4 separate regions of the Homo sapiens genome follow, and regions 1, 3 and 4 are each reported to be linked to region 2. Evidence: microRNA targets listed by miRTarBase, many of them from high-throughput screens and not tested one by one. Region 2 holds a microRNA gene; each other region holds the end of a gene's coding sequence.

Region 1 (5,392 bases), not on the chromosome of region 2:
GGATTGGGAAGCAAGTAAGGGTTCACATATGGAAGCAAGCGACCAGGAGGAAAGGGAGGGGCCGTAGTTTTCGCTGGGAGCACAGATGGAAGCGGGAAGAACTGAAGAATATGGATGGCCAAATGCTGAATGAATTGTGAGAGTTCAGAGGTGGAGCTCCTCCCGACGGCAGTGGGCGCCCATGGGTGTGTGCTGCTTTAGTGGAGTGGAGAGGAACGCCCTTGGAGATAAGCAGGCTCAGTGGAACAAAGCTGCGGTATCGGACAGACTTCACCTCCACGCACTCAGAAAAGGCACTAGGACGATGGGGACCTAGGGGCTGGAAGCCACTCCCACAGGAGCCCAGGTGCTCAGTCAGCGCAGGGAAGGAAGACCAGGGATGCCTGCGGCAGAGGGGAGAAAACGGGGAGCCCGAGTGCCCGGAGCCTCCGTGGAGGCGTGTGTCTATATCGCGACGGAGAAAACGCGTCCCCAAGAGGCAATGAAAGTTAAAATGACATTGGCCCTGCCCCTCAGACACACATAATAGGATCCTGGGTGCAGGAGAGCCAGGGTCAGCGAGAGGAGCCAAGGAAGACATTCCCAGTGGCTGAACAGACCCCCAACGGGAGGCCAGCGCAGTGCTGAAGACCTGTCTTGTGGGAGGGGTGGACTTGGGGCCTCACCAGCCTCAAGGGATTAAGGCTTCTTTCTGTGTTTCGGGGGTGGGGGCACTGAAGCCAGATGCCACTTGCTGCCCAAAGCTCAGGGTTCCAGACAGACCCCAAAGAAAGGCTTGTGTGGACTGGACAGCCTCTCCCTGGGTGGAGGTGGGTGTCAGGTGGTGTTCCTGGCGGTCTGTGGCGGGATTCCCGCCAGGGGCCGTTTCTCCTGAAGAGGGAAACAGATCTTATCTTCACATCTTCCCCCCATACACCCTCCGCTCCCCCACCCTTTTTTTTTTTTTTTTTAATACAGGCGGGGTCTCCCCATGTTGCCCAGGCTGGTCTTGAACTCCTGGGCTGGGCTCAAGTGATCCTCCTGCCTCAGCCTCGCAAAATGCTGGGATTACAGGCATTGAGCCACCACACCCAGTCTACGTTTTTGAGAAGGATTGTTCCATAACTGAAGACTGGCTGGGTCAGGGGGAAATTAGCCTGCGGGTGGGGCTGGATCATGCTGATATTGGCCATCGGCGGAGGAAGCTATACTTCTTTCTCCTCAGGCCAGCACTAACCCTGGCCCTGACTCCTAGGACCCCATCCTCATCCGCCCTCCCTTCCCTGGAGGAAAGCTCCCTTTAATATAAGACTTTAGCTTCCTTGATACTCACTTGAGAAGCCAGGAAGATGTGAGGCATGCGGAAAAGCGCAGAGTTAAAAAACAAAACCTTACAATATTTACCAGGTACTTTCCCTACACACACATCCATCTGGCGTGTGTTAGGGATGACAGGTTGGCCTGCGTTTGGAGAAAGGTAAACAGCTCAAGGTCCTAGGCACCCAGCCAAAGTCCATACGATATGCCGCTCAGTACCACCCACTGCCCCGTCTTCATCTTCAGCTGAAACTCAGATCCCGGGAGGTCTGCAAATGGATGAGGTGCTATCCCACACCAGTCAGATTCCAATTTGTCCAAGATATCCCAGATCTACCCACTCAATTACATTTAAGAGACAGTTTCTGTCTTTACTTTCACCACCAGTCTTGGTTAAACATCAGAAAAGAGACAAATTACACACTTCTCAGAAATTGAAATTTTATAAAAAGGCATTTTTCTCTTATATCCATAAAATGATATAATTTTTGCAAGTATAGAAATGTGTCATAAATTATAATGTTCCTTAATTACAGCTCAATGCAACTTGGTACTTTCTTCCCTCCCTAAAAAACGAGAGAGAACCAAAAAATAATATATATATATATAACTGTATATATATATTTATATAATATAGACAAACAAAATATGAAAAAAAATCATTTCCTCTTTGGTATAAAAATCAGACTCTCACCTTGAGAGACACACAGACAGACATGATACTGGGTTTGTAAACTGTGTGGCCAAAAGGGATTTCCCTGCCAAGACTTCCCCTCTCCCATTCCCTGCCCACCCGCCCCCACCTCACTGCAGCCCATCCAGTTCCTTTGGGGCTCCCATATGGAACATTTAAAATCCCCCTACCCACTCCCAGCTCCAAACCATTCCTGAAGAATCCCCCGACCCACTATCAAAGAAGAGGAAAGGATTCTTCTCAAGGCTGATTAGGTAGCGACTAACTTGGGAAATGCCTTATTTAGGGAATAGCTTCATAGGTGTGGATGAAGTAAAGGACAGGCTGTGGCCAAACTCTGACAGTGTCCCATCCAGACCAAGCCAGGCACTGGCCTGGGCCTGGTTTTGCCCTTATCCTCCTCTACTACCCGGCACAAGGATTCCACCACCTCTTGCCAGAGGCTGGGCCTGAGGGGCGGGGCTCCTTGCTTACTGAAGAAGGGAGCAGAGAGGCCAATTCCCGTTCCAGCCTCATCTCAGGTGCACAGCTTCCCCCTGCAGCCCCACCACAGGGCCCTGGGGTGTAGATGCAAGAAAGCACCAGATGGGGAGGCAAAGGGAGGTCAAAAGGGAGTCTGCCAATAAACTTGGGTTTAAATTTAAAATTAAAGAAAACTACGCCTCCCTGAGCTGGGTGTGGTGGCTCACGCCTGTAATCTCAGCACTTTGGGAGGTTGAGGTGGGCAGGTCAGGAGGTCAGGAATTCAAGACTAGCCTGGCCAACATGGTGAAACATCTCTACTAAAAATACAAAAATTAACCAAGCGTGGTGGTGTGTGCCTGTAATCCCAGCTACTCAGGAGGCTGAGGCAGGAGAATCGCTTGAACCCAGGAGGTGGAGGTTGCAGTGAGCTGAGATTGTGCCATTGCACTCTTGCCTAGGTGACAAGAGTGAGACTCCATCTCAAAAAAAAAAAGAAAAAAAGAAAAAGAAAAAAGAAAAGAAAACTACCCCTCCCCACTGACCAAATTTCAGACCCAGCTTTAGCTCACTAAGGATTTGGGGGCCACTTTCCTAGGCTCCAGCCCAAGGCCAGCAGGACTAAGGAATCCAGGAATTGATATGTGTGTGTGTTGGGGGCAGAGGGCAGCACTTTACTCTCAAGGTGAGGAAGCAGACAGGACCAAACCCTCCTTTACACTCTCCCACTACCCTCTGCTCATGGGTACCTCCCTCCCTGGTCAGCTCCTCTGCCCCACAGAGCACTGGTCACTGCAGGCAGAGCCGACATGGATCCTCCCAAACCACCCCACAGCCGGCCAGGCTGCGGCATCCCAGTGTGTGCCAGCCTCCTTTTCCCAGGAGAGTTAAGACACCAACCACAACATAAAAGTCACATAAAAGCCTCCTCCACTTGCCAAATAAAAAAAGACAAAACCAAACTGGACACAACACAAATCAAGGAGAGACATACACGATGTGAGGGGCCGAGGCCCCTGCAGGTCTCTGGCTTCCCGGCATGGTACATTCTTATGTAATTCAGGAACAGAGGCACTAGGGCCCCTCTGGGGAGTAGGAGTAAAAAAATAAGGAGATTATAGTCTCCCTGTGGGTCCCAGGCAGGGCAGGGGCAGACACAATCTCTCACAGTTTTTTCTTGTTTTTGGTTCCACTTCTGGTCCCCGAGTGGGGCTGGCTCCCCGTGCCTCAGCCTCTGCTCTGCCCTTGGGCCTGCTCCCTCTAGCTCCCCAGCTGGTGGAAGGGCCTACAGCTGGGAACAGATGTCCCAGCCATGTGTGGTGGGACCAGCAGGACAGAGTCTACCGGGGGGACGGGAAGCAAGGAATGAGGACCAGCAGTTCCGAGACGCTGTTCCCTCAGTGACTGGCCAGCCCTGGGTGCTCTGGTCACTGGCACAGGGCATCCATCCTCGGCCTTCAGCCCTTGAGGGGCTTGTCGGCACCGCCACTGGGGCTACTGGCACTGTCACTCTTCTTCCTGCGCAGGCTCTCAATCCAGCTGGAGCTGGAGCGGGTGGTGAAGCTGGAGAGCGCGAGAGAGCTCAGCCGCATGTTCTTGCCAGACATGATGAGCTCCCCGAAGCCCTCCTGATGGGAGAAGGCATAGCCGGAGCGCCGGGAGCCAGTGCGGCCAACCCGCCGCATGCAGCGGTGCTGGGCCTTCTGCTTCTTCCTCACGAGCTGTGTGTAGCGGACCTGCAGAGGGGCACAGGGAAGAGCCCTCTGTCAGCGTGGAGGTGTCAGATATCGCCAAGGAGAAGGGACCCACAGCACCCGGGACCAGGCTGACACAGAGGCCTCCGACCCACAGCACCTGGGACCAGGCTGACGCAGAGGCCTCTGTGGCCAGCTGCACAGGGTGTCTGTCCCCAGGAAGAACAGATAAGCACCAACACACTGAACAGCCACATGGCCCCACAGAGCCCCCCAGTGTTCACATGAGGCCTTTCCAGCCACCCCATCTCTGCCTCCCACAGCAGGTAGCCTGGCTTCTCACCGTGTCGGAGAGATCCGGCTTCAGGTTGAGCCTGAGGAATCGGAAGGCAACCACGGGCATGATGCAGACGACTGTGGTGAGCACAATGGTCAGCCACACCGTGGGCTGGGCCAAGGTGTTCTGGGCATTCCCTGGGGATGAAGAGGAGTCAGTGGCCTTGGGAGTCACGAGGCAGACATTCCCCGTTCCCATTTCTGGCAGCTCCACTTCCCTACTCTCAAAGCCTAAGTCACCTCTGGCTTCCCGCTTCTCCAGGCTCACCCTCCAAATGTAAATCTCCAAATTTAGCTCCAAACTCCCCCAAAGCTCCAGACCTGCTGCTTCAACTGCCAGACTTGACATACCAGGCATCTTGAATTTCCCGTGGCCCAAACTCAACTATTGTTTCCTTTCCCCAAATCTGATCCTGGTCTTTCTCAACTCAGGAAATGCCACAACCCATTCAGTTGCTCCAACTAAAAACCCTGCAATGGATCTTGATTCATTTCTGTAAAAATTTTTTTTTAATTTTTTTTTTGTTGTTTTTTATCTTGATTCATTTCTCTCTCTTCTTTGGACCCCACATTCAATCTATTGGTTCCATTTTTTTTTTTTTTTTTTGAGACAGAGTTTTGCTCTTGCCCAGGCTGGAGTGCAATGGCGCGATCTCGGCTCACCACAACCTCCACCTCCCAGGTTCAAGCGATTCTCCTGCCTCAGCCTTCCCAAGTAGCTGGGATTACAGGCATGTGCCACCAAGTCCGGCTAATTTTGTATTTTTAGTAGAGATGGGGTTTCTCCATGTGGGTCAGGCTGGTCTTGAACTCCCAACCTCAGGTAATCCGCCTACCTCGGCCTCCCAAAGTACTGGGATTATAGGCTTGAGCCACCGCGCCCGGCCTGTTGTTTCCATTTTCAAAACAT
Region 2 (5,392 bases):
TGGTATGTCATCGTGGGTTTGATTTGCATTTTCCTAATGACTAATGATATTGAGAAACTTTTCTTGTGCTTAGTAAACGTTCTTGAAGTCCAACTTCTTGATATTTTTCTTTTGTTGCTTAGGCTTTCGGTATCATATCTAAGAATCCATTACCTAATCCAAGGTCTACTTTGATGCCAATATCACACAATTTTGATTATGTAACTTTTTCATAAATCTCGAGTTGTACATTTTTTGTATTTTCCTCTCATATGGCTTAGCAATGTTCCACATTTTGATATGTTTTGTTTTTATTTTCACTGAGTTTTATGTATTTTTTACATTTTCTTTGAGTGTTCCTCCATGACTTACGTAAGATTTAAAAGCATGTTCTTTAATATTCAAGTGCATGGATATTTTCCTGATGTCTTTGTTATTTATTTCTAGTTAGACTCTATTATGGTCAAAGAACAAATTTCACACACTTTCTAGTCTTAATTTGTTGAGATATGTTAATGGCCCGATATATGGTATATCTTAGTGACTGTTTCATGGGTTCTTGAAAAAAAAATAGTGTATTTTACTATTTTGGGGTGGATTGTGGTATATATGTCAATTAGACCTTTTTGGCTGGTTGTATTGTTCAGTTCTTTTATATCCTTGCTGATTTTCTGTCCAGTAGTTTTATCAGTTTCTGAGAGTGGAATGTTAAAGTCCTCAACTATAGCTGTGGATTTATCTATTTCTCCTTTCAGCTCTATCAGTTTTTACCTCAAGTATTTTGAGGCCTGTTTTTTGGTGCACATGCATTCAGTATCATTATATATTTTTGGTGAATTGATTCTTTTATCATTATGTAATGTCTATCGTTGTCAGTAATTTTCTTTTCTGTGAAATCTACTTTATCTGATATTGATATATTCTCTTCCTTTTTAACAATTAATGTTTGCATAGTGTATCTTTTTTCATCCATTTATTTTCAGTCTACCTATGTAATTGTATTTGAAGTCAGTTTCCTATAGGAAAGATATTGTTGGATCATATTTTTAACCCACTTTGCCAATCTCTCTCTCTTAATTGGTGTATTTAGACCATTTACATTTAAAGTAATTATTTATATGTTAAGGCTTAAGTCTGCCATGTTATTGTTTGTTTTCTATTTGTTTTCTCTGTTTCTTGTTCCTCCGTTTGTCTTTTTCTTAACTTCCTATGAGTTGCTTGTACATTTTTTAGGATATAATCTTGATTATTTATATATCTGTATTAGTCCATTTTCATGCTGCTGATAAAGACTTACCTGAGACTGGGCAATTTACAAAAGAAAGAGGTTTAATTGGACTTACAGTTCCACGTGGCTGGGGAAGCCTCACAATCATGGCAGAAGGCAAGGAGGAGCAAGTTACATCTTACATGGATGCCGGCAGGCAAAGAGAGAGTGAGAAGCCAGGTGAAACGGGTTTCTCCTTATAAAACCATCAGATCTTGAGACTTATTCACTACCACAAGAACAGTATGGGGGAAACCGCTGCCATGATTCAATTATCTCCCACCAGGTCCCTCCCACAAAAATGGGAATTATGACAGATACAATTCAAGATGAGATTTGGGCGGGGACAAAGCTAAATTATATCAGTATCTTTTGAACATATCATCTTATATTGTTTTCTTAGTGGTTGCTCTAGGTGTTACAATGCATGTAAGTAAGCTATCACTTCTATTAATGGTTTATCACTTTGAGTGAAGTGTAGAAATCTTACTACCATTTAGGTCCTTTTACCTTTCCTAAATTTTAAATATAATGATCTTAATTATTTACTCTAGATACATTGAGCATCACATCTAATGATGTCATAATTTTTGCTTCAAACATCAAATATAGTGTATGAAACTCATGAGAAGACTAGTCTTCAATATATTACCCCATTCTTACTCATTCTGATGCTTTTCTTTCCTTTTTGAAGTTCCAAGCCTTCATTTGTTATCATTTCCTTTCTGTTTAGAGAACTTCCTTTAGCCTTTCATTAAGGGTGCTTTTACTTGCAACAAAGTATCATAAGTTTCCTTCTTGTAGGTTTCCTTCACCTGAGAATGTCTTTATTTCCCGTTTATTCCTGAAGAATATTTTTGCTGGATGCAGAATTCTGGGTTGATATTTACTTCCTTTCAGTACTTGAAAAATCTTGCACCACGCCTTCTAAATTGCATAGTTTTAGGGTGGGAAATTTACTGCAATTCAAGGTGGTATTCCTCTATATGCAATATGTTGTTTCTGTCTGTCTGCTTTTAATTCTTTTCTTTTTGTTTAGTTCTCACAAGTTTAATTTTGTTGTGTCTTTGCATACATTTTTTTAGGTTTATCCTACTTGGAGTTTCCTCAGCTTTTTGAATCTATAGGATATGGCTTTCACTAAATTTGGAGAGTTTTCAACCATTATTTCTTTAAATGTTTTTGTTCTTCTCAGACTCTGATGATACAAATGTTAGATCTTTGTTATTGTCCTAAAAGTTCCCTGATACTTTGTTTATTTTCTGCCCGGTCTCTTCTCTCCCCTGAGTTGTTATTGTCCTAAAGTTCCCTGATACTTTGTTCATTTTCTGCCAGGTCTCTTTTCTCCCCTGAGTTGAGATAAATTTCAAACTGAGTGCATTCCAATAATCTGTACTTAAGTTCACTGATTCTATCTTCTTGTGATCTCCAATGTACTCTTGAGCCCACCTATTGAATTTATTTTAATTACTACACTTTTCAGTTCTATGATTTCCATTTTGTTCTTTTTTATAATTTCTATTTCTTTGCTGAGGTTTTCTATTTTTTTCCTTTGTTTCAAGAGTATATGTAATTGCTTGTTGACACATTTTGATGATGGCTGCTTTAAAAACCTTATCAGATAATGCGAAGATCTGATTCACCTTGCTTTCAACCACCTTGGTGTTTTATCAGTTCGTTGGTTCTTTTTATTCATGCTGTGATTTTTCTGATTGTTCGTATAGCAAGTGATTTTTCCATTATAGTCTAGACATTTTAGATATTACATTATGAGACTATGGATCCTATTTCATCTCCTCTTTTTAGCAGACAATTGCCTGTTCAAGTGTAGCATGAAGGCAGTTTGCCATGCATATTCTGTTTCCAACTGAACCCCACCAACACTATCATGACAAAAGTGGGGCAGTGACTCACATTGCCTCACTACAGATAAGTGGGGTAGAGGTTTAGCCACACCTTTGGCCCTGTTAACACCATCTTGATGAAAGTAGGACACTGAGTCACATTGCTTCATTGCCTCTGAGTAGGAGTATAAGCTCGACTTCCCACTGGACACTCTGACACCAGCAAGGGGTAAGGAGAGGACTGATGCATACCTCTTTGTTACTACAGATGGGGGCAGAAGCTCACTGTCTGCTAAACCCCATTAATACCAGGGAAGCACAGGGTTTGAGAAAGCAGAGTGTCAACCAGCTCTACATCCTACCACCTCATTCAGCTTCATTTATGCAGGTGGAAATAGAGGGTCAGTTCCCTACTGAGCCCTACTGACATCAAGGCCCAGTGGGGAGCTGAGGTTCAACTCCCACCTGGCATCAATGCCTGGCATCAATGAAATGCTTGGTGACCCAAATTTGTACTGCCTTCCTAAGTCTCACTAATCCTGGGTACAGAGGAGGCTCAGCTGCCTGCTGGACCCCACGGCCACTACACTGGCTGGGGAATCAGAATACTGCCTGAGACAGCCAGGGAGAGGCAAAAAGACCAGGTCCCTGCTCAGTCCTGCTAACACTATCTTGGCAGAGGAATTGGAGCACTTCCTGGTTCTGCTGAATGGAAGCAGAATTTCAACTGCCCCATTAACTTGCTGACAAAAGTGCTGTCTGCTTCCACCAGGCAGCAGTGGGAAGATTAGCTCCACATTTAGAAAATTAGGTCCGTGCTCAGCCCCACCCTAGGAAAAGGAAGGAAGAAATTCGAGTCCCACCACCTGCTTTCATAGAGTAGGGTAGTGGTGTGAAAATCAACTCCCCACTAAGTTTCACTGAAATCCCAAAAGCAGGGGCATTTTTTTCTATTGATGTTTGGCTGAGGGTGTATGTATTGCCAAAAAGGTTTTTTTTATTGTTGGGACACCCCATTTCTGGTCAATTAGCTAGGGAAGAAAGTACTTTTTTTGGAGTTTTCTTTTATCCATGGCTATTGGCAGTTCCGGGTTAGATGCTTCTGAAGAGCCCTGTCTGGGATATATGGGCTATATTAAGGAAACGCAGATAACACATCACCGTTTTATTCTTCAAGTCCCAAGGTCCCTAGGTAGTCCACCCCTTTCAGCATTTTCCTATGCTTAGTGCTATATCCAAAGATCTAGGAAAATATGTATCATATGAAATTCAAGTGATATGTCAACTTGCAACATTTGAATTAATTTATATTCTAGACAACCTTTTTAGGTCCTCTTAAAATTTAAGTTGACAGTGAAGTGCCCATTCGAGTGGGTAAATTTTGATATAAAAGGTCAGTGCTACTCATATTTTCCCTGGAAAATCCCCTAAGAATATCAAAGTATTTCTTGTTTTCCCCCATATCTTCCAAACATTTTAATGCTTCTAAGAGCTGATTATGGTAGAATTTTTTTAAGTATACAATCGTCTAAAAATAGCTCTGATTCTATGAATTAGGAAAGAAAAAGGAAAGAGAACCATTAACAGTCCAATCAGATAGTTAAATAAATAAATTTTTGCTAGAAAGAACTGAGAAAGTGGCATCATGTAACTAACTTCAAAATAATACATGGATAAAAATATATATTACTAAAACTATAAATGTTTACAAAAACGTCCGTTAAAAATAAAAACAAGGCCAGCGCGGTGGCTCACGCCTGTAATCCCAACACTTTGGGAGCCCAAGGCGGGCGAATCACTAGGTCGGGAGTTCGAGACCAGCCTGGCCAACATGGTGAAAACCCGCCTCTACTAAAAATACGAAAAATTAGCTGGGCATGGTGGCACATGCCTGTAATCCCAGCTACTCGGGAGGCTGAGGCAGGAGAATCGCTTGAACCCGGGAGGCAGAGGTTGCAGTGAGCCGAGATCACACCACTGCACTCCAGCCCCGGCGACAGAGTGAGACTATGTCTCAAAAATAAATAAATAAATATAAATTAATTAATTAACTAATTAATTAAATAAAATCAAAACAGACAATCCCGGCCAGGCGCAGTGGCTCATGCCTGTAACCTCAGCACTCTGGGAGGCCGTGGTGGGCAGATCACTTGAGATCAGAAGTTCAAGACCAGCCTGGGCAACAAGGTGAAACCCCATCTCAACTAAAAATACAAAAATTAGCAGGGCATGGTGGCGGGTGCCTGTCATACCAGCTACTTGGGAGGCTGAGGCAGGAGAATTGCTTGAACCCAGGAGGCAG
Region 3 (3,000 bases), not on the chromosome of region 2:
ATCCACAGGCCACCGAGGCCCAGAGAGGGCCTTGCCCGAGGTCACCCAGGGAGTGGCTTGCTGGAGCCCTGGGAATAACAGTCCCACACAAGGCTCTCTCCCTCCGCAGCTGGACCTGTACGCGGGGGCTCTGTTTGTGCACATCTGCCTGGGCTGGAACTTCTACCTCTCCACCATCCTCACGCTCGGCATCACAGCCCTGTACACCATCGCAGGTATGGTGCCTGCAGCAGGGAGGTCCACCCAGGGGACGTGTAAAGGGGTCAGAAGGCCACCTCCCCCTACAGGCCCGAGGGAGCAGCCCAGGAAGTGGCCCCAGCAGGAGCCCCAGAAGTTCCTCCCCGTGTCCCTCCTCCCTGGGGCCAGGGCCCCCTCCAGCAACCTTGCTTCCACTGGCAGGGGGCCTGGCTGCTGTAATCTACACGGACGCCCTGCAGACGCTCATCATGGTGGTGGGGGCTGTCATCCTGACAATCAAAGGTGAGGACAGAGTCTGTGGCCATGGCGGGGCTGTCCCCACAGCGAGCCCTTTGGAGTCTGGCACTGCCCGGCACTGTGCAGGATTCATGCCGTTGGGGTTCTGGGTAGCATCGCTGGGAGTGGGTGGGTTCAGGAGGTTGAGCCACTAGGCAGTCAGCCCCCCTGCTGGCCCCTCAGGGACTGCCCTGGCTGGTAGAGGCTACCCACCCTGCTGCCCCGCTGTTACCAGCTCTGGCCCTGGCAAGGAGCTGACTCAGGAACTCAGGGCCAGCCACACCCGCATTGGCTCAGCGCTTGATGGTGAGGTGGGGCTGTAGGCGGGTGTGAAGGCACACAACCAGGAGGCCATAAAACTGCCTGGGCAGCTCCTCCAATTGTTTAAAAGCATGTACAAAATGCCAAGAGGTGATGCTACCTCCTGCAGGACAAAGGCCAGGGAGGAAAGAAGAGAGCTGGGAGAGATTGGCGATACTAGTCTGGAACAGATAGGAAACTCACAGGGCTGCCCGGAGAGAGCGTGAGCTCACCGTCCCTGGAAGTATGTAAGCAGAGCCAGGAGGATCCCTCAGAGAGTGAACAAATCTCTAAAGACTCTTCCAGACTCAGACACTGGGACCCTGTGGCTGAGCAGTTTCTAACCCTTGAATGGCACTTGTTCATTTGCTCTGAGCCTCACACAAACCCTCGGTCTGAATACAGAGCCTGACCTGAGCTCCATGGGAACAGTGATGCTGGGGAGACCAGCATCCAGGCAGCAGGCTGCCTCTTCCATGTCCCACTTGGAAAAGGCTAGGGAGTAGGGCCTGGGGTGGAAACGGGTTTTCCTACATCCAGGCTTCTCCCTCTCAGACCAGGGGCTCTAGTGTCCCTGGGACCCACCGCATGAGAGGGATCCCAGCAGCCAGGCCCAGTCTGGAAGGGAGGGGAGTGACACAGACACAGATGGGCCAGGGCTTGGCCATGCCGGGCCCTGACCCCGAGGTAGACAGGAACAGTGAGGTGTTTTGGACTGGAGAGGAAAAAGCCCCGGCTTGAGCCCGCCAGATGGTCTATATGGTCTTGGTGGAGGCCCCATCCCTCTCTGGACCTGTCTCCCTCTTCTCTGTGCCTCAGGGGGTGGGGCCACATCACCACCAGCCACTCTCAGCTCTGCTAAAATCACACCCTTCAGGTGATCAGGATGAACACTTTAGAAGCCTCAGGAAGGTCCTCAAATGTCAAGAAAAATTACTTTTGCTTCCTTGAATCGACAATCGGAAACCTGGCTGAGAACCACTTGCCCAAGGCCGATGAGTGTCCAGAGGCCAACAGTGACTCCTGCTGGGCCAGCGGGACACTGGGGTGCCCATGTGCAAAATGCTTACTTAATAGTATTATTTTAAATACGAATAAAATAGTCATTCAAATACACCTTAAAAAAAAAAACAACCCTCTACCCTCACACCTTTCCAAACACTGGGAAAGATGAGGTGGAAAAAACTCAAGTTTGATGCATCAGGAAGTTTCTTGTGAGATGAAGGCAGGGGGGAGCCCAGGGAGTCAGGGCCCCGCAACCACCAAACTGTCCCTGTTCCACCCTGACCCCTCCAGCTTTTGACCAGATCGGTGGTTACGGGCAGCTGGAGGCAGCCTACGCCCAGGCCATTCCCTCCAGGACCATTGCCAACACCACCTGCCACCTGCCACGTACAGACGCCATGCACATGTTTCGAGACCCCCACACAGGGGACCTGCCGTGGACCGGGATGACCTTTGGCCTGACCATCATGGCCACCTGGTACTGGTGCACCGACCAGGTGAGTGCCAACGTCTCCCGCCCATCCCACCTTCCTGCCGTCCCAGTGGGCTCTGGTAGGCCCAGGCGGCCTGTCTGCCCTCCGCGTCATGAGTCTGGGCTGGGGCCTCAGAAGGTGTGGCTCCAGGCTGGGACATGCTGCTAGGGGTCTTTGCGGTCCCGGGGGGCTTGAGCCCTCCGTTTAGAATCCGATGAGGCCCACTGGCTACCGCCCGTCCTGGCCTTTAGGTGCTTCGACTGAGACAGTTTGGAGTATGGGATTCCGAAGGGACTCGGATGCTCCTCGGTGGCCCTGCCATCGGTCATGGGGCGGGCATTTTGGGCCAGTCTTGGGCTGCCGGGATCCGGAAGCAGGCGGGGTACCTGACCTCCCTTGGCCTGCCAGTGGTGGGGGCCAGCCATGGCTGGGCCAGCGTTTCTGGTAGAGCTCTGGACGCTGTCAGCAGCAGAGCGGTACCTAGGGGGTCCTGGGAAGCCGTCTTTATCCCTAGTCCCTGAGGCAGGGACCCTGTGATGATGAAACTGCTGGCCCTGGGAGAGAGAGAGCAGAGAGTGAGGCTGAGCAAGAAGGGCCAACCCCGCCCCAGCACAGGACCCTGCTCAGGCACACAGGAGCCGGCAGGCCCGGGTTCGCCTCCTGGCTCTGCCATTCACCAGGGAGTGGGCCTAGACCAGTTGGTTTAGTCACTCGATGCCTCAGTTCCCCTGTCTGTAATATGGGAATA
Region 4 (5,392 bases), not on the chromosome of region 2:
CCTTTCTCTGCACCCACGAGTCTAAAGGACAGCGCCCCCCTCGCGATGTCCCGCAGCTGGCCCTTGGAGGTTCCTGGGTGTCGCACGGCTTCTTCCTTTCGGGGACCCCTCTCCTTTCCTGAGTGGCCACTGGCGCTCCATCTCTTGAAGGGGTACCCCTCAGCAGCTTGCGCCCCCTGACGCCGCCTTCCCTGTTCCTAGGGGCGGAGGGAAGCCCTACCCCAGGTATCCCCCAGCACATGTGTGCACCGCTGTAGATCCCCCCTCTCCTGAGACGCAAGGCCCCTCTCGCTGACACCGCCTCCGCTCCGGTTCCTTATGCTCTCCTTGACTTTATTTTTCCGGCCAGGCCGAAGTTGTTGCTGGATCCCCGGCCCACAGTCCAATCCCATGAGAGCAGCCTGCGGGGTGCGGTGGGGGAGGGCCGGCAAACACATCCACCCAGCAGCCCAGGTCACACACAGGCCGATAGGAAGGCTCGCCCTTCTTGGCCCAAACCGAAGGGCTTCCACCATGCCCATTCTCCCCAGACTTGCATTTTTAAGCCTTTTAACTCTAAATGGACTTCTTTTTCTACTTTTAAAGGAATTTCAGGAATTACGTTGATGGTATCACGTTTCGCCTCTGCAAGCTCTCTAGCTTTATTGCCTGTTATCTCTATACCCTACTCCCACTTGCCTGCCCCTAGAGTTGTCCATTCCATTCTGTTTATCTTTCGTTTTTATGTGTTCTTGCCAAAAATTGTCTTGTTTTGCTGACATGCTTTTAAATTTGTGTAAGAGGAATTGTATTCTCATTCCATTTCTTTTTCAATGCTAAGATTTTAAGATTGGTTCATGTACCTTCTGCCCCTTCTAATTACTGCCCCTTGGGCCCATCTGCCTTGTTTTACCCTTCCCTTTACCTATCCTGCTCCCACTAGTAACAGTGCAATAGGCATTCTCATAATACCCCCTTATGCTTCACTTCTCAAACAGGGTACAATGTATCACCTGGGAATCTTGTTAAAATGCAGGCTCTTGGCCAGGCACGGTGGCTCACGCCTGTAATCCCAGCACTTTGGGAGGCTATGGTGGGCAGATCACCTGAGGTCAGGGATTCAAGACCAGCCTGGCCAACATGGTGAAACCCTGTCTCTACTAAAAATACAAAAGTTTGTCGGACTCGGTGGCAGGCGCCTGTAATCCCAGCTACTCAGGAGGCTGAGGCAGGAGAATTGCTTGGACCTGGGAGGTGGAGCGCAGTGAGCCGAGATTGCACCACTGCACTCCAGCCTGGACAACAGAGCAAGACTCTGTCTCAAAAAAAAAAAAAAAAAAATGCAGACTCTGATTCGGCCTGTCTGGAGCAGGGCCTGAGACTGTATTTCCAACCAGCTTCCAGGTGATGCCTGTGTTGCTGATTCTGGGACTACATTTTGAGGGGCAAGGCCCTTATGGACCTCTGTGAAAATTCATTCTGGGGTTCTGGGTCCTAGGGTATATGTGGATCTAATTTGATGAGTATTGCCCATCAGCTCTCTAGTCTGGGTGCACCTCCTTACCCCATACCAGCTGGGCAGGAGGGTAAAAGGTATATAGTCTGTGGGGAAAGGAAGAAGGTCTTCTCCTTGCTGCTGCCCACATCCCATCCACTAGAGCATCTGGTCAGGGCCCCAAACTCCTCTCTCCCTTCATTGGAATGGACCCAAGGCTCCAGAGCAACGTCCCTGGCTAGCAATGCATGGCCAAGTCAATGATGGATCTAGGCCAGGCAGCCTGGTCTCTGCCCTCACCACATGGGATCCTGAATCCTCAGCTTGCCATCTAGATTGGCTTGACTCATGACTTCCCTAGGCCTGGGCTTTAGCTCTGATAGGAGCTCTTGAGAAGCCTTGGGGTCTTCAGTTAGTTAGGTTGTTTGTGTTTCCTTTGCCCCCTTCACCTTCCCTTGAGTAGCCTGGTAGGACTCAGATGGCCTGGCCTTGCCACTGGCAACTGGCTATCCTGGGCCTGACTTCTCATCTCTAAAATGGGATGGTCACAGCATAGCTATAATTTGTGGTGCTAGGAGTGGTCCCAGGTCCTTCACTCACATGCCAGAGCCCTAAGACAGGGGTTCTTGCCTTAGTTTTACCCATGAGGAAAGTGAAGTTGAGGAAGGTTTAGCGATTTCCACTAAGGGCATGGAGTTAGTAAGTGAGAGTGCTGGGACTCACGCCCAGCCTCAGCTCATGCACCAAAACCCATCCAACCATGAGACCACATCAGCCCCATGTCCTACCTCGCTCTCACTACCATGCCATAATGCGGGAGAAATACAAAGAAACAGAAAGGAAGGACTGGACCTTGGGTTTTGGCACTGATGCTGAAGGCATCTAATCCGTGGCATGGAGGGTTGCAAAAGTCTAAGGCAAAAATGAACCAGGGTTCTAGGGGCTAGCCCCAAGGCCCTGAGTATTTATGGGACAAAAGAGGGGGACCTTGGGTCTGGGGCTTCAAGAGCAAGGATTTTAGGGTTATACATAAAGCAGGGATCAGAACTGGGCAGGAGTTGGGGATGGCCAGGGCTTGGGTGGGGGTCAGGTGTGGATAAAGTTGTCTATCATGTACCTTACTTGGTAATTACCGATCACTCAATGTTTTGTTGGAGGGGCCAGCAAGTGAACGAACGGCCAGCATTCAGGGCATCAAAGGATTGCCCTTTCCAAAGCCCTTCTGGTGCCTGAGCGGCTTGCTGGGTCAGTTTTGGAAACCCTGGGGCTGTGCTGTCCCCACTCACACAGCTGTGCAAGCATCTGGCACCCAGCCCCAGGCCCAAGCATTTCATAATCAAAATAGTTCAACATCTGCACATTTTGAGATTTCATGGCACATGACCTTTTACATCTTGTACACACTTAACCGACCTCTTGTTTACCATTTTAGGGCCAAAATTCTATCCAGGACAGAGAGTTGATCTGAAAGCCCAGAGAAGCTTCCTGTTCCTTCAACAGTCTTTGGGGTCAAAAGATCTTATGCGCCTACAGAAAGTTCTTAGAGCTCAAAACAACATCTTACAGGTTTTTGGCTTCTACAAAATGCTTCACAAATAGATATTGTCTTTGACTCACAACAACCCCATGACAGAAGTGGCCCACGTAACATTGAGGCTCAAATGAATTAATTGGCCAAGGCCACACATTGTGTAAGTGGGTGAAATGGGATTTCTTGATCATTTTTCCATAACAGACCTTGGGATTCTTAGAGAGTGAGTAGGTGCTGTCTGACCCCAGTTGGCCCATTTCTCAGACTTGGGGATGCAGACTGAGGCAGGAAGTAGGAAGTCTAGGGAGGAGGATGCGTGGGCTGCAAGGTTTGGAGAGCGAGTGAGTTGAGGTCTCCTGGGGCTTCTGGCCAGCCTTCTCCCTGATAGATTTTTGTCACTGGGACCCTCTCTAGAGTCTGTGGTTCTCCTGGAAGTGGAAAGAGGGGATTGGTGGGAGGAATGGCAAGGCCAGTGGTACCCAGGTAGAAGTTCTCAGTGAGTCTGAAGCTGAGACAGCTGAGTGGCTATGAGAAAAAGATGCTGTCAGTTGCCAAGGGGGCCCCACGGGTATCATCACATCCATATGGGCGCTATCAGTGGCTTGGTCAAGCTCTGCCCCTGGCTAAGCAATTTTCACCAATGGCTAAGCCATCTGTCTTGCCCCCTCTTCTCAAAGCCCCCAGCCCCTCACACCAGGAACCTGCAGCATTGACTTGAGGAAGGAGTCCGGGGTCAGGCCAGTCTACCTGTTAGGGACTAGGGGTCTGGGCCCTGCCAAGGCAGGGAGCCCTGATCCCATTGCCCTCCCTCTCCCCGTGGGGTCTCAGGCCCTAGGCCAGGGCTCAACAGACACAGGCAGTGGGATGGGGTTGCCCTTCTATTGATCCAAATCCTGAGTGTCGCCTGGGTGAGTCATGGAGGTGAGGAGGCCCACAAGGCTCAGCAGTGTGGAGAAGAGCAGCAGGAAGGAGGCCGTGAAGAGGAGGGCAGGCAGAGCACTGAGCACCAGCAGCAGGAGAGCCGGTAGCAGGTGGCGCCACACCGCGGCCACGACAGGCCACAAGGAGCTCAGCAGGTGGGAGCCAGTGGTGAAGAGTGCATGGCACAACATCAGTGCCAGCAGCAGGTAGAGTATCCCCTCCAGACCCCACAGCAGGCGCTGCAGCGGTTGCCGCCAGTTCGAGGTGCTCCACCACTGGATCCAGCTCGGGGGCATGTGGCTCACCCACCAGCGCACCCAGCCATGCCTCGTGACCCAGGCTGACCAGGGCACTGCCTGCTGTGGCCCCTCGCCAGCCCCGATGGTATCTGTCTCCACTCGCGGCTGCTGCATCATGTCTGGTGCACCTGGGGAGAGGGCCAGGGTCTTGAAGATGCCTGGGACCTTGGGGGGGGGGGGCAGAGAGGGGGTGCAGGGGTCAGGAGGGCACCAGTGTGCGTGGGGTGGGGCTACAGAATTAGGGACTGGGACTTACCTCTGGGCAGTTACCTAAGTCATGTTGCTTCCTGCAGCGCCCAGGACGGCCTGGCAGGCAGATCCAAGTCCCCACTCTCATCTACCCCCACCCTCCCCAGAGGAGCCCCTTTGTGACCCGGGCTGGGGTGGGGTCCAGCCAAGAGAGGAGTCACTGTAGGGTGTGAGGCCCACCCAAGTCCCTCTGCACGGACCCTCCAGGCTGGCAGGGGAGCCTCGGAGCCCCGCAGATGTAGTTTCTCATGCTTTCTCATGGGAAGCCCTCCCTGGATCCCTGTCCCTTTCCTGCTTTCCCTGCTGGCTGATATCCACCCCTTTCCAAACTGCTCTCTCGCAAGTCTTTCTGTCTGGACCTTCATTCTCTAGAGCCACAGAGGAGGCCAGAGTGGCTGCCCCCAATCCACAGGCTCTGAGGTGGCTGCCACATTCTTCCTTGGGCTCCCTGGCTAGTATCCTACCTTCTCTTGCTGCCCAAAGACTCAGATCCAGGTATCTGATACCTATATTATAGGACTGTGAGGTTCAGGCTGGGAAGAAAGGGGTATCATCCCACCTGCCCAGCCAGGAAGGAGAAAAGGGGGCCTGATGAAGAAGGGTGGTCATTGTATATTTGAAGGACACTGAGTTGTGGGGAGGGGCTCTCAGGCCCAAGGATGGAGGCAGAAAGCCAGGCCAAGCAGGGTCAAGGGCATGCCACAGGCTCTCAGGAGCGGGCCCAGCCCCATGAGCAGCAGCAGCAGTGCGTCCTGGAGGCTAAGTTGTCCTGAGACTGTACCCATTTGCAGGAGTAGAGCCTCCTGCTGTCCAGGACCTTCACCGGCCCCCTGACTCTGGCCCCTGGTGAGAAGTTTGCGCTGTGGCAGAGTGTGACCTGCGGGCCTGTGGAGAGAGAGGGTGGTGACTGGGCTTAGG

The links. The annotated mature microRNA hsa-miR-6134 reads UGAGGUGGUAGGAUGUAGA and lies in region 2 at 3,441-3,459, opposite strand. An mRNA with a match to its seed (bases 2 to 7 or 8) in the 3' UTR can be bound and repressed. Matches are read on the target gene's strand: a 7mer-m8 pairs with bases 2 to 8, a 7mer-A1 pairs with bases 2 to 7 and ends in A, and an 8mer does both.
Region 1: the mRNA of ATP8B2 is a reported target of hsa-miR-6134. Seed matches in the 3' UTR shown: 7mer-m8 at 2,864-2,870 and 8mer at 2,707-2,714.
Region 3: miRTarBase lists FAM83G as a target of hsa-miR-6134. Seed matches in the 3' UTR shown: 8mer at 1,946-1,953, 7mer-A1 at 1,476-1,482 and 8mer at 782-789.
Region 4: miRTarBase lists TMEM239 as a target of hsa-miR-6134. The part of its 3' UTR that is shown has no 7-base or 8-base seed match.

The regions. Positions count from the first base shown.
Region 1 is chr1:154,347,636-154,353,027 of GRCh38, reverse strand. It overlaps ATP8B2 (ATPase phospholipid transporting 8B2), which reads right to left. Exons shown (of 28, transcript NM_001370597.1): 27 at 4,490-4,620; 28 at 1,724-4,188. The coding sequence ends at 3,910. Among named protein-coding and RNA genes, the nearest start is that of ATP8B2, 25 kb to the right of the region's middle. RefSeq lists enhancers at 2,730-3,713, 3,714-4,698.
Region 2 is chrX:28,492,135-28,497,526 of GRCh38, forward strand. It overlaps MIR6134 (microRNA 6134), which reads right to left and starts at 3,529; the gene lies at 3,421-3,529.
Region 3 is chr17:18,968,943-18,971,942 of GRCh38, forward strand. It overlaps FAM83G (family with sequence similarity 83 member G), which reads right to left. Exons shown (of 6, transcript NM_001039999.3): 6 at 1-2,806. The coding sequence ends at 2,417. It overlaps SLC5A10 (solute carrier family 5 member 10), which reads left to right. Exons shown (of 15, transcript NM_001042450.4): 6 at 110-215; 7 at 400-480; 8 at 2,071-2,276. Among named protein-coding and RNA genes, the nearest start is that of SLC5A10, 18 kb to the left of the region's middle. RefSeq lists an enhancer at 1,822-2,763.
Region 4 is chr20:2,815,505-2,820,896 of GRCh38, reverse strand. TMEM239 (transmembrane protein 239) reads right to left here and starts at 4,533. Exons shown (of 2, transcript NM_001167670.3): 1 at 4,482-4,533; 2 at 2,835-4,353. The coding sequence starts at 4,342. The coding sequence ends at 3,884. It overlaps C20orf141 (chromosome 20 open reading frame 141), which reads right to left. Exons shown (of 3, transcript NM_001256538.2): 3 at 5,067-5,359. The coding sequence ends at 5,122. RefSeq lists a silencer at 3,977-4,036.